4 linked regions of the Homo sapiens genome follow. The protein of the gene in region 4 purifies or fractionates together with the protein of the main gene of each other region. This does not show direct contact. Each region holds a gene or a part of one and is shown on either strand. Other genes may lie near its edges. The genes, in order: SAV1, FBXO11, CUL5 and SOCS6.

What was found.
Region 1: the proteins of SOCS6 (region 4) and SAV1 purify together in Homo sapiens (affinity purification with mass spectrometry; 3 studies listed by BioGRID and IntAct, with this or other methods). This does not show direct contact.
Region 2: the proteins of SOCS6 (region 4) and FBXO11 purify together in Homo sapiens (affinity purification with mass spectrometry; 3 studies listed by BioGRID and IntAct, with this or other methods). This does not show direct contact.
Region 3: the proteins of SOCS6 (region 4) and CUL5 purify together in Homo sapiens (affinity purification with mass spectrometry; 7 studies listed by BioGRID and IntAct, with this or other methods). This does not show direct contact.

The regions. Positions count from the first base shown.
Region 1 is NC_000014.9:50,658,276-50,665,308, forward strand, and holds part of SAV1 (protein salvador homolog 1), read right to left. Parts: coding exon 6,904-7,033; intron 1-6,903. UniProt on the Homo sapiens protein: Regulator of STK3/MST2 and STK4/MST1 in the Hippo signaling pathway which plays a pivotal role in organ size control and tumor suppression by restricting proliferation and promoting apoptosis.
Region 2 is NC_000002.12:47,833,485-47,840,517, forward strand, and holds part of FBXO11 (F-box only protein 11), read right to left. Parts: intron 6,286-7,033; coding exon 6,158-6,285; intron 6,017-6,157; coding exon 5,935-6,016; intron 5,520-5,934; coding exon 5,375-5,519; intron 2,518-5,374; coding exon 2,388-2,517; intron 1,388-2,387; coding exon 1,304-1,387; intron 1,228-1,303; coding exon 1,095-1,227; intron 1-1,094. UniProt on the Homo sapiens protein: Substrate recognition component of a SCF (SKP1-CUL1-F-box protein) E3 ubiquitin-protein ligase complex which mediates the ubiquitination and subsequent proteasomal degradation of target proteins, such as DTL/CDT2, BCL6, SNAI1 and PRDM1/BLIMP1.
Region 3 is NC_000011.10:108,102,868-108,108,264, reverse strand, and holds the end of CUL5 (cullin-5), read right to left. Parts: intron 4,076-5,397; coding exon 3,881-4,075; 3' UTR 2,059-3,880; coding exon of another isoform or gene 1,978-2,058; 3' UTR 504-1,977; downstream 1-503. UniProt on the Homo sapiens protein: Core component of multiple cullin-5-RING E3 ubiquitin-protein ligase complexes (ECS complexes, also named CRL5 complexes), which mediate the ubiquitination and subsequent proteasomal degradation of target proteins.
Region 4 is NC_000018.10:70,320,014-70,327,046, forward strand, and holds part of SOCS6 (suppressor of cytokine signaling 6), read left to right. Parts: intron 1-1,589; exon of another isoform or gene 1,590-3,635; intron 3,636-4,529; 5' UTR 4,530-4,655; coding exon 4,656-6,263; 3' UTR 6,264-7,033. UniProt on the Homo sapiens protein: SOCS family proteins form part of a classical negative feedback system that regulates cytokine signal transduction.

The sequences.
Region 1 (7,033 bases), on a different chromosome or scaffold from region 4:
GTCATCTTTAAACGTTTAAAAATGTTTTCGAGACAGAACTAAAATTTAAGCGCAAAACAAAGGAATTCAGTCTGCCTTTAGTATTCCAACTAAAGACTTCCTGTTAACAGCAGGATTCCTTTCTTTGGAACATACAGTAAGTGCGTGACTGGTATGCGGCCAAGAACATTAAAGGTCAAATTTTCTAATCTGAAAGTTCTACAGCTAAACGTAGAACTTTCTAGGCTCTAAAACTTTCTGAGATTATACAACTTGTTTTTGTGCTTCTACTAAATACAATAAGCTGAATTTAACCCTTGACACAAGGTGTTTCCTGAAAATCTAATAACTAATTGACAGGAATTACTATTGCCATTAAGTCATTACAAAACAAATTTTCCAACCTTTTTATGCTTATGACAATCAAAATTCAATGTTTCTGAAAATAGATCTATCGCACAAACCTATCCTATCCTCCTACAAACTTACTTTCTCCTTTCTATTCATTCAAATTCCTTGAACCTTATTCAGCATAAATCCTAAAAATATGTTTTAAGTCTTCTCAAGGTGAATTCAAGAAACTTTCAGCTACTGTCTCATATTCAGATTTTTCCCTTGTGGAAGAGGCAGTTATTAGGCTTTTCTGTTTGGCATGTAATTGGTTATTAATCTTTCCCTGCAACTTTAGAGATTCCTTCAAAAAAAGTACTACTTTTTTCTACAAGGTAAAACATTAAATCTATATTGCCCTGATAAAAATTAATCTTATCAAATGAAGTCTCTCAAGCTCTCAAGCAGTGTATCAACTGCTGTAAAGAATTTTTTTTTTTTTTTTTTTTTGGTTGGGAGAGATACCTTATTACCTGAGATTCTTCAACTACCTGCAACCTTCTTTAAACCTAACGCAATCTGATATAAAAGAGCCTGGGATGAGACTTCGAAGGCAGAAGTCTACTGTCTCATTAAAACAAGGTCTTGGCTATTCCATGAAATCAAATCTTATTTCAGTGCATGTGTGTTCCAATAAAACTACTGTATTGCAGGAGGCAAGTCTATCTGGCCTATGGGTGTAGCTTGCTGACTCCTGCTGAAGCCTCCCTCATAAAATTAAAAACACCCTCAAGATTAAAATTACGGTAGGGGCCCGAATTTTGATAAAATATTTTCCTTCTCTTTTTCCACCTCCATGTATGACTGCTTGCAAAGTCATTTCAACAAATGGCAGTCACTAATAATTGTCTTCCTGTGGCAGCCCCTGGGCAGGCTGCCCATAAGATTAACAAACCTGTTTCTTTTAAAGAACAATAATCCAGACTGGGTGCTGCGGCACATGCCTGTAATCCCAGCACTTTGGGAGGCCAAGGCAGGCAGATTGCTTGAGCTTGGGAGTTTGACCAGCCTGGGCAACACTGAAATTCAGTCTCTACTAAAAATACAAAAAATTAGCCAGGTGTGGTGGTGCATGCCTGTAGTCCCAGCTACTCAGGAGGCTGAGGTGGGAGGATTGCTTGAGCCCGAGGTCGAGGCTGCAGTGAGCTGTGATCATGCTACTGCACTACAGCCCGGGCAACAGAGCAAGATCCTGTCTCAAAAAAGAAAATAGAAGAGAAGAACAAGAAAACAATGATCCTAGATCACACAGACCCCCTTGATAGTTTCCAGAATTTGGACTGGCCAAACAGGCCAGGCCACTTTGATCACTGGTGATCTCACCTCCTGCAAACTCTTCTGCTAAGCTATAGGTTTAAACAGTAACCTGCCATTTTTTCCCAGCTTTCTTTCCATAGTAACTGGCAGTCACAAACACTACTGTAAAACCTAAGACTGGTCTTCGAGATATTTTTCAGACTTTGCTTACAAGTGGACCAACTGACACCAAATGGACCAGTGTTCCATGAACTCAACCAAGGAACTGACTTGGTCTTGTGACTCCCCAATTTCCCAGCAACTGATTCAGCACATGAAGACAGCATTGATAACCCTATGATCTCATACCAGTCCAATCACCAGCACCCATCCCCTAGCCCCCTGCCTGCCAAATCATCTTTAAATATCTTAGCTTCTCCAGTCTTGGCGGTGATGACTCTGAGAAACATTTCCCATCCTCCTTACTCAGCTGCCTTGCAATAATTAAACTCTTTCTTCTTTACAGTATCTGCTGTCTCAGTGTTCTGCTCTATTCGGATAGCAGACAAGAGCCCAGTCAGGTGGTAACATTGTTTTATAGCATTTTTTGGATACATAATTATTTGCACATGTTTATGGGGTACATGTGATATTGTGATACATGCAAAGAGTATGAAATAATCAAGTCAGGGTATTTAGGGTATCCATCACCGTGAGTATTTATCATTTCTATGTGTTGGGAACATTTCAAGTCCTCTCTTTTAGCTATTTCAAAATGTTAACTGTAGTTACCCTACTCTGCTATCAAACCTTAGAACTTATTCCATCTAACTTTATGTTTGGACCCATTAACCTACCTCTCTTTACCTCCCCTCCCATCCTTCCCAACCTCTGCTATCATTCTATCTCCATGAAATCAATGTGTTTCGCTCCCACATGTGAGTAAGAACATGAGACACTTCTCTTTCTGTGCCTGATTTCCCTTAATATAATGACCTCCAGTTCCATTCAAGCTGCTGCAAATGACATGATAAACATGGGAGTGCAGGTATTTCTTTGATATACTGATTTCTTTTCCTTTAGATAGATACCCAGCAGTGGAACTGCCGGATCATATGGTAGTTCTGTTTTCGGTTTTCTGAGAAATTTCCAAACTGTTTTTCATAGTGCCTGTCCTAATTATTGTAACATTCCCACCAACAGTCTGTAACAGTTGCCTTTTCTTCACACTCTCACCAGTAGTATATTTTTTTGTCTTTTTAACAATAGCCATTCTGACTGGGGTAAGACACCTCACTGTGGTTTTCACTTACATTTCCTTGACGATTAGTGATGTTGCACATTTTTTCACATACCTTTTGGCCATTTGTATGTCTTCTTTTGAGAAACGTCTATTCATGTCCTTTGCCCACTTTTTAATGGGGTTGTTTTTCTTACTGTTGGCTTCCTTGCATATTCTGGATATTAGTCCCTTGCTGGATGAATCTTTTGCAAACACTTTCTCCTATTCAATATGTTGTCTCTTCATTCTGTTGTTTCCTTTACTGTGCAGACGCCTTTTGGTTTAATATAGTCCCATATGTCTATTTGTTTTTGTTGCCTGTGCTTTTGAGGTCTTAGCCATAAAATCTTTGTTAGATCGATGTCCTGAAGTGTTTCCCCTACATTTTCTTCTAGTACTTTTATAATTTCAGGTCTTAAGTCTTTAATCCATCTCAAGTTGAATTTGCATATGGTGAGACAAGGGTCAGATTTCATTCTTCTGCATGTGGATATCCAATTTTCCCAGCATCGTTTATTGAAGAAAGTGTCCTTTTCCCAATGCACGTTCTTGGTGCTTTTGTAAAAAAATCAGTTGGCTGTAAATATGTGGATTTATTTCTGCATTACCTATTTTTGTTCCATTGGTCTATGTGTCTTTCTATACCAATACCATATTATTGTGGTTACTATAGCCTTATTTGTGGTTACTATAACCTTGTATGTGGTTACTATAGCCTTATTTCGAAGACAGGTAGTGTGATGCTTCTAGCTTTGTTCGGTTTGCTCAGGATTACTTTGGGTATTTGGGCTCCTTGTTGGTTCTGTGGAAATTTTAGGATTGTTTTATTTCTGTGAAAAATGACTGGTATTTTAATAGGGATTGCATTCAATCTGTAGATTACTTTGAGCAACATGGTCATTTTAATGATGTTAATTCTTCTGACCCATGAGCATGGGATGTCTTTCCATTTGTTTTTGTGCTCTTCAATTTCTTTCATCAGTGTTTTGAAATCTTGTTATTTATTTATTTATTTATTTATTTTGAGACGGAGTCTCACTCTGTTGCCCAGGCTGGAGTGCAGTGGCGCAATCTCAGCTCACTGCAAGCTCCGCCTCCCGGGTTCACACCATTCTCCTGCCTCAGCCTCCCAAGTAGCTGGGACTACAGGCGCCTGCCACCACGCCCGGCTAATTTTTTTATTTTTAGTAGAGACAGGGTTTCACCGTGTTAGCCAGGATGGCCTCAATCTCCTGACCTCGTGATCCACCCTCCTTGGCCTCCCAAAGTGCTGGGATTACAGGCGTGAGCCACCGTGCCCAGCCTGAAATCTTATTTTTTTAATGACATACTTGAATCTGAAAACGTATGCAATTAACTTGTACTTTATTTTGAAGTTGTGACTGGAAAGTTGCTTTAAAGTCTGTCTTTAAACTTAGAAAAATTATCTCAAATTGCTCCTAAGAGAGGATCAGTAGAGATTTAGTTCTTATAGTATTTCCTCAATTATATTTGGCAAATTAGATTTTCAAAACAAGAGTTTAACTTGTTATTAATTCCTCATATTTACATACTTAAACCTCAGGTAGAAAAGTATTACAAGCTATCAGTGACGTCTACAATATAGGTGGGAAAGGTGAACGCAAAGAATAACACATATTCTATATTAACAGTAAACATAGCTATTTCTGTTCTCCCTCAGCTACCAAAAACTGTCTTAAGCCTCCAGATTTAAAACCGCTGGGTTCATTCACTCATTCAGCCATTTATTTTTGTGAGCATCTCTTAGGCAGTCATGTGCTGTGCTAATCCTATCTGACTCTTCCCTCTCCTTTGTCCTTCAAACCCCGTTAGTGGCCAAGTCCCATTAATGTGGGCGTGTCCCACTTCTCCTCTTTCCAAATTTCTGAAGTATAGGTCAAGTCCTCATTAACCACTGAATATGCACCAAATGGAAGATTACGCAGTCATTAAAACCACTCATAAAAAGTATACAACATGAAGAAAATCATTCAAGTAAAAAGAACAGAAAACTGTACAAAATATTATATAATCACATCCATGTAAAAAAAGAATTTGGCATGGAAAAAGATGAAGAAAATAACATACTAAGAGGATCTCTGGTGGACAGGTACTTTGCCTTTACGTTTCTGCATTTTGCAAATTTCCTGTAATAAGCAGTTATTATTCTAGAAGAAAATATAAATGAGCTTTATTTTTAAAACTTACTATTTTAGTTAGATAACAAATTATTCCTGAGGTTCAGAACTGCATATCAGAAATAACCAAAATAAACACTCAAGCATGCAGCTAATTCTTTAACCTAATTCCTTAAAAACTAAAAGGTGCTTTTACCCATGCCTCTTACTGCATTTCCACATGCCTAGAAAACCTCTCCTCTACAATGTTCCAGTGAGACTCTGATGTCAGCTTTCATAAAATAAGTTGTTCTTACCAACTATTCCACATTATTTTTAAAACTTCAGTGATCTGCTTTCTCCTAAACTCTAATTCTCATTTTTCCTTTAAAAGCATCCTAGATTTGCGTTTTCCTATTACCACTGGTACCCACTGGTACCTGCAATCCTCTTTTCTCTAGGAATCTACCCTTAATTCTAGTACAAAACTAATCTTTAAACACTGCTTTCATAAAATCACTTGTCTTTCCGAAATGTGCAAGAGCTTCCACTTGACTCAAATCTAAGCCTATTGTTGAACCACAAATCTCCACTCAACCTTACATCTTATTTCTTCAAACCAGGCAGAACTACACTGTTCCTTATATTTAAACCATGCCTACTCTGTTTTCATTGTGCTATTCCCAATTTTCCACGTAAAATGTCCTTCTTCTGGCCCTTGTTAATCTAAAGGCCAAGCTCAAGGCCCACTCCAAGTCCTACCTCTTCCATGAATCATCTCTTTAAGTATTCCAGCCTATACTCATCTCTCTTCTGATTCCCTGTTGCACTTACAGTTAGTATCACAAAGTATAACAATTTTTCTGTGACCATTGTGTATAGATTGGTTTTGTTTCCACAAATAAGGTACTAGACAAATAAGGTACCAGAAAGCAGAGACCAACAGACCCAAGGAAAACGCTAGACACATAAACAGTTAATATTAAATGAATAAATTTTTTCTACAGTCAAAATACTAATGCTCCAAACCATTTTTAAGTCGCCTTATTTGAAGTTATGTGAGCCAAAAAGTAAATCTGTCTCACATTTTATTTTTATCCTGCCAAAATTTAAAGTCTATAACTTGGTAGAAAAAAAAAATCAGACAAGAAAGTTTAATTTTCATCTCACTTCATTTTATCTGGTAAAACCAGGACTTCAGGAATAAAGTAGAATTGTACATTTCTCCCATCTCTTCTGCTCCTTTCAGAAGTATCTCCAACTCAGGAGATATGGAAAGTACCTTCTTTTCTTAAATTATATGGTAATTTTTTTTGTCTGTTACAAAAATAATAAAAAGACATGCTCAACACATAATTAACCATATGACAATAAGTCTTTTTGATCAACTCAGGAAATAATTCTTGAACTACTTTTTGTTGAGAAAAAGGGCAGGATCTAGCGAAGTAATGTGGTTGCTCAGGGTATCACTGAGCATGCCCAGTTGTTCCTACTCTTCTTTCCTTTCCCAAGTTTGTCAAGTGTCTCTGAGGACTCCGTCAAGTGTCTCTGAAGACTTACCCTTCCCATTATTCTACCAAACCTAAACCTAAATTCAGCCCAACTGGAGACATTAAATTCTCTAGGTTTTCAAGGGTCACAGCATTAAGAGTCTAGACAGCCTTGAGATAAATACCAAGTTTACATAACATGAGTTAATAAAATAAATGGTCACAAGGACTCTTCCATTCAGTGTAGATTAACAACTATTTGCACACAGGCTTAAGCAGGATGAGCAAAGTGGAAAAACATTTCGCTAGTAGTATTTGTTCGTGTCCCAAGAAAATCTAGAAAAGAACATCTTTTTAATTGACATGTCAATAAATATAAACTACTATATTATTTATAATGTTAAGCTACCTGAAGCATGCCTCCCCTGATTCTGTGGCATTCTTTGGAAGAGATCATGGTTGTATTCATAATATCTGTAGTCTTCATGTGCACGATCTCCAAGTGGCCGCTTTCTCTGACCATCAAAAAAATTGTCTGA
Region 2 (7,033 bases), on a different chromosome or scaffold from region 4:
TTCTCCCCATCTTCATGAGGAGATAGAGGAAGAAAGCAAAAGAGGCTGTAAATGCAAATTTCACTAGCAAATAATAATTACTAGCTATCTTAAAATGTTCTATGTACTGTATCCTCAAAATAAAAAAACCACAAATCTTCAAATGACTCAGTGTTTGACAGATATTACATTTATTCTTAGAAACCTGACCATAAATAGCTTTGAAATAGTACAAAAGTATTTAAAAATTCTATTTCAGTTCCTTTAAAAACATAGCAATAGAAATATTAGCATCTTTCTTTGCAATTCTCCTGCCTCAGCCTCCAGAGTCGCTGGGATTACAGGTGCACACCACCACACCTGGCTAATTTTTTTTGTATTTTTAGTAAAGATGGGGTTTCACCATGTTGGCCAGGCCAGTCTTTAACTCCTGACCTGAAGCGATCCACCCACCTCAGCCTCCCAAACTACTGGGTTTACAGGTGTGAGCCACCACACCTGGCTGCATCTTTATTTTCAAATAAAAGATGAAAAAGCTATTTTTCTTCGTTTAATGAATAACTCAAGGCAAATGGAGAAAGTACTAACATTAGGAAACATATACAGCCAGGCACAGTGGCTCATGTCTGTAATCCCCGCACTTTGGAAGGCCGAGATGGGCAAATCACTTGAGGCCAGGAGTTTGAGACCAGCCTGGCCAACATGGCGAAACCCTATCTCTGCTAAAAATACAAAAATTAGCCACGCATGGTGGTGCATGCCTATAATCCCAGCTACTTGAGAGGTTGAGGCATGAGAATTGCTTGAACCCAGGAGGCAGAGGTTACAGTGAACTGAAATTGTGCCACTGCACTCTAGCCTGAGTGACATAGCTAGACTCTGCATCAAAAAAACAAAAAAGGTTGGGGGGGGCGGGGAGAAAGAATTTATATACAGCTATAATTTCTGAACTCTTATGTTTTCACTTCCTTCACTTAAAATATGTGTGATATCTTCATTCCTACTTTACCAGCAGGATATTATAAAACTGGATTTTAAGTCACTAGCATTTTTAAAATCCTATCACATAAATGAGTAAAATATTAAAATTTTAATGACAATGCATTTCAAAATACCTGCACCAATCATGGTGATTGGAGATTCAATATATATCCATTCATCAGTATATATTCCAGAATGAACAAAGATAAGTCCATCAAAATGAGCCTCTTGTACCCCACCAAGGGCATCTTCAATAGTATCATAATACTAGAAAAAAATAAATGTGTCAGTACAGAACTGAAAGATTACCATTTTAAGTCATAAAAATAAAAATCAAACATACCAACATATTTTCTCTTCCTTTATATCTTGCAGGGTTACTGTAGAAATGTTCAGCAAATCCTGGCTTTACATGTGCACCTTTATACTAAAATGTCAAAAACAAAACAAAACCATTGACTACTAACATAAACCTTATATTTAAATTAATGTACAATTGCATGAACAACTTTTATTACAAATCAAAAATAATTCTCAACTATTCCAAATAATTTTCTGTCAGAGTACAATGTAAAATCTAAAACAAGTTATGATCCGGTAATATCCAGAAACAAAGAACAGGGTTTCTCAATCTCAGCATTACTGATATTTTAAGTCAGTTAATTCTTTGTTATGGGGGCTGTCCTGTGCACTGTAGGATGTTTAGAGGTATCCCTGGCCTCACCCAGCCAAATAGCAGCAGCACACTCTCCTCCCATTGTGACAATCAAAAAATGTCTCCCGACATCGCCAAATGTCCCACAGAAAGCAAAATCATCTCCAGCTGAGACTCACTCACGAAGGGCCGTATAACAATTAAGCTAAATGTGGAACTTTAAAACAAATGCTGAACACTAATAATTTAAATACAAGTTCAAACAGACCCATTGAAATCACAACTGCTCTTAGGCTACTAATGCTTACTGTACTAACTTATTAATGGGGGGATATGTCAGTAGTGAAAAGAATTGCTGAATATTCTGTTGGTTGATAAATGTTCATTAAAACCTACTCAACTTTTTTTTTTTCCCTGAGACAAGAGTCTCACTCTGTCGCCCAGGCTGGAGTGCAGCAGTGCAATGTCAGCTCTCTGCAACTCTGCCTCCTGGGTTCAAGTGATTCTCCTGCCTTAGCCTCCGAAGTAGCTGGGACTACAGGTGTGCGCCACCATGTCCGGCTAATTTTTGTATTTTTAGAAGAGATGGAGTTTCGCCATGTTGGCCAAGCTGGTCTCGAACTCCTGACCTCAGGTAATCCTCCTACCTCGGCCTCCCAAGGTGCTGGGATTACAGGTGTGAGCCACCACGCCCAGCCTAAACTTATTTCTTAAAAGAAAGTTATTTACAAATGTATAATATAAACCAATATATTCTATTTATATTTCATACCAACTGCTGGAAACTCTCTTTCCAGGGATTTGGATGTTCATACTCTTCTGGATTAATCTGGTAGAATTTTCCAGGTTCAGGATGCATCATAGGGCGAGTATATTCAAATACTTCCATATATAATCGTTTCCTGAACAGAGAAAGGAATTAAAATTTTCTTGATAAAATGTCCTTTAGATTAATACAGTTTTGAACAACTATAACAATTATTTGAGGCCTCAAAAACTTGAGTAAGAAAGTAAGAATAGACAAAAATGAATATTAAATCACAGGATTTTTTTTTTGAGACACAGTCTCACTGTCATCCAGGCTAGAATGCAAGTGGCATGATCTTGGCTCACTGCAACCTCCCTCTCCCAGGTTCAAGCCTCAGCCTCCTGAGTAGCTGAGATTATGGGCATGTGTCACCACGCACAGCTAAAAACAGGATTTAAAACGTGAAAACGTATTTTTCACATTTAAAATTTTCAGTGTAGTTGCATATGGAAATTATGTTTTTTTCCTTTTTTTTCTTTGAGACATAGTCTATTTCTATCACCCAGGCTGGAGTGCAGTGCCACGATCTCAGTTCACTGCAACCTCTGCCTCCTGGGCTCAAATGATCCTCCCACCTCAGCCTCCCAAGTAGCTGGAACTACAGGCACATGTTACCCAGGCTGGTCTCGAACTCTGGAGCTCAAGTGATTTACCCACCTCAGCCTCCCTAAGTGCTGGGATTACAGGCGTGAGCCACCATGCCTGGCCGAAAATTAGTTTTCCTGCAAAAATTTTCACAATGTAACTGCGTATGAAAATTTGTCCACACAGAACAACAAAAAGTTTCAATTTCCTTACAAACTGTTTACTCAGGAAGGGGAAAAAAAGTTATCCTTACTGTAAAAACATCATGATTATCACTTAAAAAGATAATTTTCTTTCTTTTTCTTTTTGAGACAGAGTCTCACTCCCGTTGCCCACACTGGAGTGCAGAGGCGTGATCATGGCTCATTGCAGCCTTAACCTCCCAGGTTCAAGTGATCCTCTTGTCTTATTTTTTGATTTTTTTTTGTAGAAATGAGGTCCCAGTATGTTGCCCAGGCTGGTCTCAAACTCCTGGGCTCAAGTAATCTGCCCACTTCAGCCTCCCAAAGTGCTGGGATTATAGGCGTGAGCCACTTCGCCTAGCCTAAAAAGATAATTTTCAGTAAAAATACTTTGAACTTAATTTGTCCTATATCTTCAGTCCATTTATATCCTATCAAGCACAATGAAATCTTCAAACTGGAGTAATGGCTAACTATTATCATTTCTGGTACAGTGAGCAATGCTGTTTTGTTCTGCTGCTCTTCATTCTCATTTCTCCTTTGTAATTTTTCTCTTAAATGTAAGGTGTGGGCCGGGCACAGTGGCCCATGCCTGTAATCCCAGCACTTTGGGAGGCCCAGGCAGGAGGATCACCTGAGGTCAGGAGTTCAAGACCAGCCTAGCCAACATGGTGAAACCCTGTCTCTACTAAAAATACAAAAAATAGCTGGGCATGGTGGGAGGTGCCTGTAATCCCAGCTACTCAGGAGGCTGAGGCAGGAGAATTGCTTGAACCCGGGAGGCAGAGGTTGCAGTGAGTCAAGATTGTGCCACTGCACTCTAGCCTGGGCAACAAGAACGAAACTCCGTCAAAAACAACAACAAAAACATATATATATATGGTGCACCTTTTGTGCATCATAAAAGTAATACATATAACCGTTGTAAAACAAAGAAGTGTAAAGAACTATAGTTTCAATATATTAACTATTAACAGTCTGCCATATTTGCTTCCACTCATTTTATCTACAGATCATTTATTATAGTTGTGATTATATAGCATATACAATTTTGTACTCTGTTCTTTTCTTTAAAAAACAGGGTCTCCGTCTGCCGCCCAGGCTGCAGTGCAGTGGCACGATCACGGCTTTCTGCAGCCTTGACTTCCTGGGCTCAAATGATCCTCCTGCCTCAGCCTCCGGAGTAGCTGGGACCACAGGCAGGAGCCACCACACCTGGCCTCTTTTCACTTTTTATAACAGCATTTTTTTCATCTTATTAAAAACCTGGGCTGGGTGCAATGGCTCATGCCTATAATCCCAGCACTTTGGGCGGCCGAGGTAGAAGGATCACTTGACCCCAGGAGTTCAAGATCAGACTGAGTAACAGAGTGAGACCCTTTGTCTCAAAAAAAAAAAAAAAAAAAAAATTAGCTGGGCATGGTGACACATGCCTGTGGTGCCAGCTACTCAGGAGGCTGAGGTGGGAGAATGGCTTGAGCCCAGAGGGTTGAGGCTGCAGTGAGCTAGGAGCGTGACACTGCACTCCAGCCTGGGTGACAGAGCAAGACCCTGTCTCTCAAAAAACAAATGAAAATCTCTTTGTAAAAATTACTATTAGTGGTTATATCACAACTCTCCAAGTACACATTACACAGTTTATGTAGTTCATTCCCTTAATTCTGGATATTTAGATTATTTATAATTTTTCTCATTATTAACTAGGCTGTTACGAAAAATCTGTACATAAAGCAAAAAAAACTTTTCAGAAGTAGAATTACTGGGTCAAAGGGCATGACCCAGTAATTACTGGGTCAAAGGGCATGAATTATTTAAAGATTCATGAATACAACTGTTTTCCAAAAGTGATATATAAAACCTACATTCTAATCTATCAGATTTAAAATTCATTAGCTATTTTAAATTACACTGTTATGTTTCTAAAAAGCTACTAAAAGAAAAACATTTCCCATAATCAATCAGTTGCTATTAACTGATAAACAGCAGATAAAAGACTTCATTTACTGATTTATAAATACCACCTGGACTGACAGCCCCCATTTGTAACTTGGAATTGATAAGCATTTTAATTTTGTTCCAACTAATTGTAACTACCAACTCACCGCACCGACTTTCCTACCATGTTTAGCATTTTGGGCAACAAATAACATATCTCAAGTTAATAAGGAATAGGTTTTTACTTACCACAAAATTGGATCATTAGCAAGTTCACTGAAGCGTTTACATACACAAGCTGCTCTACAAAGATCCTGTTCCAGCAAGTAAGAGAAGATTTTTAGAACCACTTCATCTGGCAGTTTCTCCTGAAGATACTGTTCAGCAGGTGCTGCTATAAAGAGATTAACATATAAACTATCATTCGAGCAATAACTTTCTCATTATTTAAAGAACACAGTTTTCATTTTATCTAATGAATAGCTTTTTTTTTTTGGATAATGGTCATTTTATAAGCATGTGGGTTTCATGGGTAACACATATTTATCTCTATCCTGAACTAACAAAAGTACTCCTTCTTTTAGGTATTATGTGCCATCTCAGAAATGGTTAAAATAAATACATAAAAAGCATTTTTATACAACAATAAAAGTCAGAGGGAGAGGTCAGGGTTCTAAAGTTTATTCTGTAATAATCACTTTCTGAATCCCAAAGGTAATACTCGAATACACTTAATTTTCATTTTTTGGTATCAAGCAAAATTAAAAAAAATTATTTTACCCTATTTGTTACTTTCCCACAGGAAATACCTGATAGATCTTGTGATTTTCCAGACACTCTTGCACGTTTTGCACGATGACCAAAGTTTTCTGTAGTTGAAGTTGAGGCGCCCTTCAAAAACAAAACAGAAACTAGTAAAGCAAATATTCTTATCATCCATAATCATTACTTCTAAAAAAGGATGACATTCCCTTTTTTGTTTCTTGAAAATTCTTTCATTACAAAAAGAAAAGCAACTACAGTTAAAGTTACCTCCATACTGTTCTTTGTGGGACACGCTGTTCTTTTCGGCAAAAGAGTTTTTCTACGAAGTTGGTATGGACTATTTTGTGCACCAGGACCTGATTCTTCTGCAACCATATCTGCAGGCACATCATCATCTGTTATAAACAAAAGCAATAAGAAAAATTATACCCTTTTTAAAAAAAGTTCTATGGATACAGAAAACTTTCTTAAAACTTCAAATTCGGGAGGGAGCAGATGTAAGTTTTATATGAAATTCCAACCAACTGGATAGCTATATGAAAGAAATGTTAGATTTCTATAAAATGTGGAAGATTTTTTTTTTTTTTGAGACAGAGTCTCGCTCTGTCGCCCAGGCTGGAGTGCAGTGGCGCAATCTCGGCTCACTGCAAGCTCCGCCTCCTGGGTTCACGCCTTTCTCCTGCCTCAGCCTCCCGAGTAGCTGGGACTACAGGCGCCCGCCACCACGCCCAGCTAATTTTTTGTATTTTTAGTAAAGATGGGGTTTCATCGTGGTAGCCAGGATGGTCTTGATCTCCTGACCTCGTGATCCACTCACCTCGGCCTCCCAAAGTGCTGGGATTACAGGCGTGAGCCACCACGCCCAGCCGTGGAAGACTTTTTTTTAAAAAAAGGTGAGGAGGATATCCACTTGCTGAGAGGAGTGGGAAGGGAACTGGTACTACATGGTTAGAGACCATATATGGTGAAGGCAGCTTGGCAAGGAGTGTGTCTATGAAGAGGAACGGCTCAATATAGTGCATGAGATACCAGGTAGGTTAAAAAGGGTGTCAGAGGGTAGTCTGGTGTATGAACATCTTTTTTTTTTTTTTTTGGAGATAGGGTCTCATTCTGTCACCCAGGCTGGAGTGCAGTGGCCCGATC
Region 3 (5,397 bases), on a different chromosome or scaffold from region 4:
CTACACCCGGCTAATTTTTATATTTTTAGTAGAGACAGGGTTTCACCATGTTTGCCAGGCTGGTCTTGAACTCCTGTCCTCAGGTGATCCACCCACCTTGGCCTCCCAAAGTGCTGGGATTACAGGCGTGAGCCACTGAGCCCGGCCCATTTTTTACTTTTATCTGCTATAAAATTTGAATTTTGTTATGACATAGCCTATCTTAGTTGATGAATATATTAACCACTTTCAGGTTGGAATTTTTTTTTTTTTATTACCTCTTCCAGGCATATAGCCACATGCTATCATCAGTGGAAAAGCTACATTCCTGACTGCTCTCATTTTGAATTAGAATTTGAAGTCTAATATAAATAAGTGGGTTACTTTTCATATTTCTGATTCCTAAGGCTGGCTGAGATTAATTTACCTTCAAATTTAAAAATATACCTACTATAAAAATTTTAATTAAACTCTTTGTAACTATTTTATAGTAGAACATCAACATTTTCTGGATAGGTAAAAGCTTTTATATTACATTTTTATTTTGCAAGAAAATAAATTATACAACTTAAAAAATAAAATCCAAAAATTAAGCAGTTCATCAAAATATTTCAGCCTACTGCATACAGAAACTGCTACCACTTAAAATTGTACAGCATTATCATCTCAGTATGTAGTGGCACACATTCAAAATCGTATAGACCATATGAGGATAGATTACAACTTAGAAACTAAAATAAATTTGTTCAACACTCCAGACAACATATAGTGTAGATGACAGGAAAGCTCTCATGTAATGTTTATTTCACAAACATGACCTTGGAAGAATTCATAAGACAGCATCCCAGTCACTTACATGAGAACAGAAAAACCAGCTTGAGTTTAAGATAGCAAATCTTTCTGTAAAACTAGCAAATCTTTCACCCAGACTGAAGTTTTAAAATTTGCCCTTTGAGCAGTGCTAGAGACATCTTACTGCAAATAATGCAAAATACTTTTTAACTACTCAGGTCATATTTTCTATTAAATTTAATAAAAAGTAAAAGAAAGAAAGCTAACATTTCATTTTTGGAAGGTTTAACATTTATGCACAAAATAAGAGCAAGAGACTTAAATAAAAAAGTTGACAGAACTCAGGGACCCCTCCAATAAATGTAAAAATTGGAAGACTTCAGAATTTATTTCAAGATCCTCATTTAATCATTGGAATAGTAATATTCTAATATTTATCTCATTGTGACCATCAAAATTTTTCTATATTTTTACTTCTTAAACTCTGTCTTATGTCTACTTACTCCGGCAACGAGATGGCAACACAAGTTAACATTTTCCAGATGGGATGTCTCTGTCTTTAAACTAGAAGATGGGTATTCAGAGGTTAAGATAGCCTCTGAAGTGTCTTATTGCCATACCACTAATTTTTAAAAATTAAATTTTTTTTTTTTTTTTGGAGGGGGAGGCTGGATTTTCTTTTCACTTAACTGCAGGTTATATCCCTGCTCGGCACCAATTTTAAGTGTACGCTGGAGAGAAGAGACCTGAATAAAGGATGCCAACTGTGATTCCAGACCTTTACAAACTGCTGGTAAGATTTTTTTTTTCATTTTTTTTTAAATTAGCAAATCTGTTGTTAAATTACTTAAAGAAAATTTAACAATGGCATAGGCACCTTGTCAACTAAATGATTTTCATAAACACCAAAAAGTAGTTAAAACTTTTGTATACATAACCAAAAAAAAAAAAAAAAGAAAACTGTACATTTACAGTATTTGCTGCTGTTCATTCCCCAAAATACAATTAGGACATAATTGGCTATTAAAAATTTATAAAATTTAATAAAAAACTTTGCTATGAATGTAGTGTTACCCACTTTTGCATTAAATTCACCTTCATAAATCAAAACATCATGACTCTCATTCTTAAATTAAATGACCCAAAATTAGAAGTTCCAAAAAAGTTCTGAGAACAATTATGGTTTAAAACAACAAACCTAAATTTTTAAAATGGACGGCAATTTTTCCTGTTTCCTCCTTTGGCATTCTTGTATTGGGACAAGCAAATACGCCAATGCTGAATTATCTGTTAAACATAAGGGCCACAATTACTACAAAATTATTTCTTCTAAATTCCAAATATACCCATTATGAACAGTCACCTAATTAGAGAAAACTGTACGTATTAATTTTAGTTTAATTCTTCACAATATGCTCGGTCTAATAATTGACATTTGCTACCTTAAAGTGTAAAATTTTAAACAAAATTCCAATTTCCTATAAGTTTCAGAACAGGCATTTGGCTATACTCAGCAAAACTCTAAATGTTTTAAAGTTGCTTTCCTTCCATTCAGCAGGCAGTTCACAAAGCCTCTTCGGATGGGGACAGATCCTACGAAATGCTCTTGAAAGCACTCCACTGTAACATAATACTGTATGCCTTTCTGTACTCCATTTCCTACTATCTTCAAAAACCATACTTTAAAAATATTACTTAACATCAAATAAGATATAAAATAATTTGCAAGAAAATTTGAAACGTGCACCACAATGAATAAAAATCCACGTTGAGCCATTCTTTCCTCAAGGGGAATCAATTTTCTCTTTCAAGTTGTTCACGTCCTCAAGTCCTAAAATTTCCACTACTCTGGGTATTCAGTTGCCAGCAACTAGTTAAGTTGCTACTTTGGATAGACTGAAAGGAACATGGTAAATGTTGCCTTCTGACGATTTAAAAAATGTTTATTTTTAAAATATATAAATATATATGTACATATATTTGGCAAGTTTACTGCTCGTATTAAGAGTGCAACAATTTTGCTTCTGTTTTTCAGGTCTTATGTTGTGGTTTTTCTCTTACCCCTAGGTGACTGATTCAAACCTGAGGCTACAAATCCCTAATCATGAGACCTTAAAATACCAAAATACTTCTATGCTACAGATTAAGAGATCAGTTACATAACTATATCAGAGCAGGAGATTTCTGTGTTGTTTTTAATAAATTCAGATATGGCATAATAAATATTAGGTATATAAACATTAAGTGTGTTAGTAAACACACAATATGTTTAGTAAACACACTTAATATGTTTGTTTTGCTATTTTGGCTCTGCAATCATAATGACCTACCTATCTCCATAAATTTTTTAAACTATTGAAGCAACAATTAATATAAGCTTCATTTTTCAAAACAAGCTTTCCAGCCATATTTAAAAAAAAAAAAACTCCTCATCATTTAACAACAACTAAAATAGCAGTCTCCTGCTTAAAGAAAACCAACATTTGAAAGTTGAAAATATTTAATACCATTTTTAGGTCACCATTAAAATCCAGTTATTATACTGAGCAATGTTTGAACAATTTGATACTATTAAATACTTAACTTCTCACCTACATCTGCCGTTTCCCAATGTTGCATTGACCAGCTCACTCTTTTCATCAAAAGAAACCAAGAGTGCTATTTCTAGTTTTAATTGCATTTTTTAAAAACAAAAGATAACAGCATTTTTCAGTGCATGAATATCTGAAGATCCTTCCTTGTGCAAGTACATTTTTTAAGAGAGGAAAAAAGAGAAAAAAGCAACAAGAACCCCACCCTCACCCTTCCCAACTGTATTTCTCCTGGTGGGTACAAATCAAATTCACTTTTAAAAGTTGATAATGGGCTCTTCATGAATGCAAGTTTCTCCACAAAACAGCATGCTGTCAAAGAGTGTGCAACATGAAGGGAATGCCATCATGCTAACTAATGTGATTGGCAAAATATAGTTGTTTTTGTAAGGTAAGGCAGAGATTTTAATATTTATGTAATCAAAGTCCAAATAAACCTTTCTCCAGCACAAACTTTACAACTTTCTGCCCAAGCACTCCAAAATTTGGGTTCTAAATATTGTCCATGATATTCAAAATTATGCCATATATATGAAAGTGTTGATATCAGATTCATCTCTTCTGATGTATTTGTGCTCTATTAGCCACTCTATTTGCTCTTTTATCATTTTCTTTTGTGGCAAGAACATGTTTTTCAAAATTTCTACTAATTCAGTCTGCAGCTGAGCATTACTAATTTTCTTTCTCATTTTCATTATTTGTATGATAGCTTCCTAAAAGAAAAAATAAAAATAAAAGCGCATTAATATACGAAATTATTTTAAGTACAACAAACTGAAAAATGACTTTTTATGCATATTCATCCTCTATCCAACATCTACCCAAATGAATAATAATCACTAGGGGATTAATGTTGAGACTAGTATCTTTTACTTAACAAATAAAAACATCTTTTGTTTTCTCATGCCCCATAAAAGAGAATCTGCTTATTGGGGTGGGGGGATAGGGGAGGGATAAGCATTAGGAGAAACACCTCATGTAGATGACGGGTTGATGGGTGCAGCAAATGACCATGACACGTGTATACCCATGTAACAAACCTGCACATTCTGCATATGTATCCCAGAACTTAAAGTATGTATTTAAAAAAAATCTGACTATAGAGATTTTGAAAAATAAGGAAAAGCAAAATTACCTCTGCTTCTCTGCTGAAAGAAAACTACACCTAATGTTTTAATATTATTTCCTTCAATTCCTTTTTTCCCATGCCATTCACATTCTTAAAAGTTATCTTACCTGTGAAAACAATGTGTATATAACCTGGTATCATGTTAAACATTAATTAAAATATAACAAACCCCTTACACCAAATTTTTCCCTTGTATTCAGTTATTTCTTTGTATAGCAGTACAGGTCAGGTGGGGTCTGTTTTAAAAGTCATTAAGTAGTACTCTTTATATATTTACCAGATTAATTAATTATATTTGCTACAAATATTATCTTCAGTTTATATTGACTCAATTAAATGTTTTTAAGGTTTTTTTTTTCCCCTTCTTCTCTTTAAATACAGACACAAGGTTTTGCTATGTTGTCCAGGTTGGTCTTGAACCCCCAGACTCAAATACTCCCCTGCCCTGGTCTCCCAAAGTGCTAGGATTACAGGTGTAAGCCACGATGCCCAGTCACTTTTAAGTTTCTAAAGAAATAAATCTTTTTCATCTAGGTCATTTTATCAAAATTTTTCTTGATGATTTCCTTAATTACTGTTAAGTTTACAATAAGAGTTATCAGAAAATCATTAAATATTCTTTTCTCTTTTACCTTTTCCAGTACCAGCTCTCTCTTTACCCAACAAAAGGCATGTATATGCCGGGTGTGGTGGCTCATGTGTGTAATCTTAGCACTTTGGGAGGGTGATGTGGGTGGATTGCTTGAGTCCAGGAGTTTGAGAACAGCCTGGGCAACATGGCGAAACCCCATCTCTATAAAAAATACAAAAATTAGCCAGGCATGGTGGCGTGTGTCTGTGGTCCCCGCTATTCAGGAGGCTGAAGAAAGAGGATTGCTTGAGCCTGGGAGGTGGAGGTTGCAGTAA
Region 4 (7,033 bases):
ATGGAGTCTTGCTTGTTGCCCAGGCTGGAGTGCAGTGGTGTGATCTCAGCTCACTGCAGTCTCTGCTTCCTGGGCTCAAGTGATTCTCCTTCAGCCTCCAGAGTAGCTGGGATTATAGGTGTGAGCCATAATGCCTGGCTAATGTTGATATTTTTAGTAGAGACGGGGTTTCACCATGTTGGCCAGGCTGGTCTCGAACTCCTGGCCTCAAGTGTTCCACCCACCTCAGCTTCCCAGAGTGCTGGGATTATAGGCATGACCAATGGGTTTGAATGTTATAGAGTAAAAAAATTTTGTGTTATGGTTTTAGATTTTACAGGGCAATTTATCATTAAGAAACTATTATTCATTGAGTTTTGATATAGTATCAAAGAAAAATATCCATAGTTATATGAAAAGGTTATTAAATAAAATATATTGTTCCTTTTTCCAACTATGTATCTGGAGGAGGCTGAATTTTCTTCTTACAGGTAGTCCCCTATGCACAGTTTCAATTACCACAGTCGATAGTCATCTGAAGACAGCTAAGTGCAGTACAGTAAGATATTTTGCGAGAGAGAGAGTCCACATTCTCATAGCTTTTATTACAATATTTTGCTATAATTGTTTAATTTTATTATTAGTTATAGTTATTAATCTCTTACTGTACCTAACTTAAAAATTAAACTTTATCATAGGTATGTGTGTATAGGAAAAAAGCAAAGTATACTTGATATAGGGTTCTGTACTATATGTGGTTTCAGGAATCCACAGGGGATCCTGGGATGTATCCCTTGCAGATAAGAGAGGGCTACTGTACTGTAACAGATTCAGTGCAGAAGTAGATATGAGAGTCTAGCTGTCTTCCTTTAGTCAGGCAGAAGAGATTTACAGTAATGTCATGTGGTACCACTTTCACTGATTTTTATTATCATTCATGAAAATGTTATTTATGTTAACATGTAATGAGTATATTGTCATTTTAAAATAAATATAAAATTAGGCTGGGCATAGTGGCTCATACCTGTAATCCCAGCACTTTGGGAAGCTGAGGTAGGAGGATTGCTTGAGGCCAGGAGTTCAAGACCAGCCCGGGCAACATAGACCTCATCTCTACAAAAAGTAGACAAAATTAGCCAGGCGTGGTGGTGCGTGCCTATAGTACCAACTGCTCAGGAGGCTGAGGTGGGAGGATCTCTTGAACCCAGGAGGTTGAGGCTGCAGTGAGCCGAGATCATACCACTGCACTCTAGCCTGGCCAACACAGCGAGACTCTGATTCTGTGTCTTCAATAAATAAATAAATAACAAATTTTCTCAGTTTTTTTTTTTTTTTTTTTTTTTTTTGACAGAGTTTTCGCTCTTGTTGCCCAGGCTGGAGTGCAGTGGCGCAATCTTGGCTCACTGCAACCTCTGCCTCCCAGTCTCAAGCAATTCTTCTGCCTCAGCCTCCTGAGTAGCTGGGATTACAGGCACACGCCACCATGCCTGGCTATTTTTTTTTTTTTTTTTTTGTATTTTTAGTAGAGATGGGGTTTCACCACGTTGGCCAGGCTGGTCTCCAACTCCTGACCTCAGGTGATCCGCCTCGGCCTCCCAAAGTGCTGGGATTACAGAAGTGAGCCATCATGCCCCGCCTCTCGGTTTTATTTTCTAGTAGGGTACATTTCAAGAGATGCAACCCACATAAACAATGCTTCTTCCTGTCTTCCAATAATTTTTAAGAGAATAAAGGGGTTCTGAGACCAGAATGTTTGAGAACCACTGATGTAAGCAGTAGAATGACAGGTAGGACAGGTTGGCATAGGGGAAGAATGTGAGCTTTGCAAATAAACAGCCAGGTTCAGATTCTGGATCTGCTGTTGCTAGTAGCAAATTGTTTAACTTTGTTGGGCAAATTCCAGTCTCTCTGATAACCAGTTTCCTCATTTTATAAAATGGGGATAATAAAGCTGTTTTGTTTATTGAAGGTTAAGTAGTTGTTTGATCTTTTTAATTTTTTCATTATGTGTTATGATGACTGACAGACATGACTACCTCAAGTCATTTAAGAAAAGGTTGAAATTATTTGAAGAAGTTATCCTTTACCCATATGGATAAAGTTTATGTCTAAAGCTTTTTCCCTTGAAACTTTATATACATTTTCAAGTATATGTATAAACTTAAAATTTTACAATTAGAAAAGCAGTAAAACTAATTCAGAACATTTACTTAGGCACGAGACAGATGGTAATCCTATAAAAAGATGGCATATATTTTTGGATGTGCAAACAGAAAAACAGATACTCTTAAAAATTTTAGAGTAATCTTTGCCTAGAATATGAAGGGAAGAGATAAAAGACCATATGGCCTAATAGAACTTTTATAGTTTGTAATGTCTAGGATTGAATTTTGTTTCTTTAATATTAGTATTGATTAATAGCTTACTAATATGGATTGGTAGTTGAAAAAGGAATAATTTTCAAGCAGGTAATTGCCAAGTACTTTTACCGTGGTTGCTAGTCTCTCGTGTTTTGGGGTATGGGTGTGATAGTGGGAAGCACAACTATTTGAATCTCACATTTAGTAGGGTTAATCAGTTACTGATTCTGGCAGTTATAATAGTTCATTATGCTTGGGTAGAAGACATGCTACTAAGACACTGAGTTCACCTAATATACAACTTCATTTATTATTTAAAAGTAACTGGTGCTTCAAATATTTTAAGTTTTTTATTTTTTACAACTTATTCAGAAACATAGTACATGACAGTAGACTTTTAAAAATTGCTTCTTCCTTTTGGGGACATGATAGTACTGATCCCCTGATAGGTTGTCTAATCTGAGTGGTTTTTAGTAAGAATGATTCCATCTGCACACCACCCGAATCCTATCTGTAACTAAAAGGGGACAATTGTCAGGTTCTCTCTCTCCTGTCAGTTCCCACCTTGTGTACCATTATATTACTGAAGGGTTGATACTACAGTTTATCTGTTCATACATCTGTCTCTCCTACTGGATTAGGTGACCATCAGTTATTCATCAATCTGTGTATTGCCACACAGGGCTGAGCCAAGCTGACTCAGCAGAGGCCGAGTAGGGGCTTAGTAAAGGCAGAGTGAATTCATGAATGGGATCAAAGCTAGAGCCATAGTCTTGTGCCAAGAAACTGAGTGGCGCTAAACTGCTGATTTGGGAGGTCAGAATCTTGTTCTGGGCTTTATTAGCATTTCGCTCAAGTCAAGCGAATCACCTTGTCAAGTCATATGCAGAGAAGGCAGAACATGACGTTGGAGGAAAGAAAACATTCTACACAGTTTAAACACAGGGCCTTTGTAAAGTAGTGTTAGGATCACTTAACGTGGTTTATGGAACCAAGATTTTTTGCTGTGAAATGACTTTCAGAAAGTCTTTACAGAATTGAAATCCTGTCATTTCAGTGTAGAACAATGTACAAAAAAAGTTTAGAAAATATATTTCTGGATATAGAAGTAAAAATTTGCCATGGGAAATTGCAAAAAAAGAAGAGTAAGCAATAATAATTCTGGAAATATGTTTCATAATCTTCCAAATAGATCAAAACTAGACACATGGGTTTTTATGGGTGTACTTCAGAGATGAAGCTTTTCAACCTGCGCGCATTGAGCTTCTTCCTCCTCTGTGCATTGGGAACTTGAAGGTAAATGATTCTTGTTCTCAAGGAATTCTCGAGTATAGAGGAACATCTCTAGATAGTTTATTACAGATAATGAAATTCTTTTTGTTTATTTTGACACAAGCTTAAGTATTTAAAATATGCATCAGTTGTTGAGTTGACTAGGCTTGTTATTGCAGTTCTATGGAACGCCTTTACTGTCGTGCCAGGACACAGGCTGGGACATGGCAGGCAGCGGAGGAGCAGTCGGAGTCAGTGCTGAAGGAGTGCACAGGTCTAGCTAGAGTCCAGCTGGGAAGGATGTGGACACTGGCCCACACGTTAGAGTTTATACCAAAAAGCAAGGTGCCAAAAGAACAAAAGGTAGATGCAGGCTTGTTCTTTATAAACATCATCGGGCGGGGCATGGTAGCTCAGCCTGTAATCCCAGCACTTTGGGAGGCCGAGGCGGGCGGATCATAAGGTCAAGAGATCGAGACCATCCTGGCTAACACGATGAAACCCCGTCTCTATTAAAATACAAAAAACTTAGCTGAGTGTGGTGGTGGGCGTCTGTAGTCCCAGCTACTTGGGAGGCTGAGGCAGGAGAATGGCGTGAACCCAGGAGGCAGAGCTTGCAGTGAGCCGAGATCACGCCACTGCACTCCAGCCTGGGCGAAAGAGTGAGACTCATCTCAAAATAATAATAATAATAATAATAAAGTAAACATCATCAAATACTTGCCAAATGCTCATTGTGTAGTAGGCAGTGATCTGCTCTGCTGGGTGCAATAGAAAGAAAGCCCGGTCCTAACAGAGCTGACATTAAGAAAAGACTGGGGTGTTCTCGTTCAGAAGTTAAAGGATTAAAACTGACTAAAACAAAACTTTTGTGGAAATATTTTTTAATATGACTCTTTTTATATTTTTATTTTTTAGAAAATGGCTCCAAAGGTTAAATGAAGCAGGAAAAATACATAGATGCAGCCTTGCAGCCTCTCCAGATGTTTGGGGATAATATTCCAGATAGAAATATTGATCCCTTGGATTAGGTAACTAGTCATAATGAAGAAAATTAGTCTTAAAACCTTACGGAAATCTTTTAACTTGAATAAAAGTAAAGAAGAAACTGATTTCATGGTAGTACAACAACCATCGCTAGCCAGTGACTTTGGAAAAGATGATTCCTTATTTGGTAGCTGCTATGGTAAAGATATGGCCAGCTGCGATATCAACGGTGAAGATGAAAAAGGCGGAAAAAACAGATCAAAAAGCGAGAGCCTGATGGGTACGCTAAAAAGGCGGCTTTCTGCAAAACAGAAGTCAAAAGGCAAGGCGGGCACACCCTCTGGGAGCTCTGCCGACGAGGACACCTTCTCCTCCTCCTCAGCACCCATAGTCTTTAAAGACGTGAGAGCTCAGAGGCCGATAAGGTCCACGTCGCTCCGCAGCCATCACTACAGTCCCGCGCCGTGGCCTCTGCGGCCCACAAACTCCGAGGAGACCTGCATCAAGATGGAGGTGAGAGTCAAGGCCTTGGTTCACTCTTCCAGCCCGAGTCCAGCCCTGAATGGCGTCCGGAAGGATTTCCACGACCTCCAGTCTGAGACCACGTGCCAGGAGCAAGCCAATTCACTGAAGAGCTCGGCTTCTCATAATGGAGACCTGCATCTTCACCTGGATGAACATGTGCCTGTCGTTATTGGACTTATGCCTCAGGACTACATTCAGTATACTGTGCCTTTAGATGAGGGGATGTATCCTTTGGAAGGATCACGGAGCTATTGTCTGGACAGCTCTTCTCCCATGGAAGTCTCTGCGGTTCCTCCTCAAGTGGGAGGGCGCGCTTTCCCCGAGGATGAGAGTCAGGTAGACCAGGACCTAGTTGTCGCCCCAGAGATCTTCGTGGATCAGTCCGTGAATGGCTTGTTGATTGGCACCACGGGAGTCATGTTGCAGAGCCCGAGAGCGGGTCACGATGATGTCCCTCCACTCTCACCATTGCTACCTCCAATGCAGAATAATCAAATCCAAAGGAACTTCAGTGGACTCACTGGCACAGAAGCCCACGTGGCTGAAAGTATGCGCTGTCATTTGAATTTTGATCCGAACTCTGCTCCTGGGGTTGCAAGAGTTTATGACTCAGTGCAAAGTAGTGGTCCCATGGTTGTGACAAGCCTTACAGAGGAGCTGAAAAAACTTGCAAAGCAAGGATGGTACTGGGGACCAATCACACGTTGGGAGGCAGAAGGGAAGCTAGCAAACGTGCCAGATGGTTCTTTTCTTGTTCGGGACAGTTCTGACGACCGTTACCTTTTAAGCTTGAGCTTTCGCTCCCATGGTAAAACACTTCACACTAGAATTGAGCACTCAAATGGTAGGTTTAGCTTTTATGAACAGCCAGATGTGGAAGGACATACGTCCATAGTTGATCTAATTGAGCATTCAATCAGGGACTCTGAAAATGGAGCTTTTTGTTATTCAAGGTCTCGGCTGCCTGGATCTGCAACTTACCCCGTCAGACTGACCAACCCAGTGTCCCGGTTCATGCAGGTGCGCTCGTTGCAGTACCTGTGTCGTTTTGTTATACGTCAGTATACCAGAATAGACTTAATTCAGAAACTGCCTTTGCCAAACAAAATGAAGGATTATTTACAGGAGAAGCACTACTGAAAGATTGAGAACCCTGCATCTTGCACTTTGGGAATAAGAACAAGAGATTGAAATACAGTTTACAAACTTTCATTGCCATCAAAATCTTTTGCTGCCATAACTATTTCAGTTTTATGTGTAAAAGAGTCATCAGTTTGTTTAGGGGTGGGGAAGTGTCAGCAAGGTGTCTTGGGTTTATTTTGGTTCTTTAAAAAAGGGAAGTCTTGAGGTTTTAGAGGTGTGAATTATGTTTCATCAATGTGCAGAATAATCACAATGTGAATTATCAAATTCTCCTCAATGCCCCCCCCGCCCAGTCCTTTGCTGCTATCCACTGTGATTTTTATGCATTAAAAGCACATTTCATGTGTATTCAACCCTAAGTAAAGTTGAATGAAACTTAACAGAATGGAAATTGCTATGTCTTTTTAAATGGTCCATTTTCAAAAGACAGTGTTGAATAAACATACCTGTGTGATAAAACACAGAATTTACATATACACTGAAGATGAGTTTTTAATCTCTTACTTTAAAAAGATTTATTTAGAATCGTGAATTGACATAATCTTGGGTAATGGAACGGAGATCTGCAACATATCTTTTAACAACACTTTTTTCTAAATTATTTCTAAGGTTGTGCTAATTCTTTTGGTTGTGAAAAGTTGAATTTTTCTGTTGCCTTCGTTTTCATCTTCTAGTTTGTCTATTTTAATAAATGGCCTTACATTAAAAAATTGTAAAGAAATGTATACCACCAATTTAGAAATTGTTGCCTTTTCTGTAATTAAACT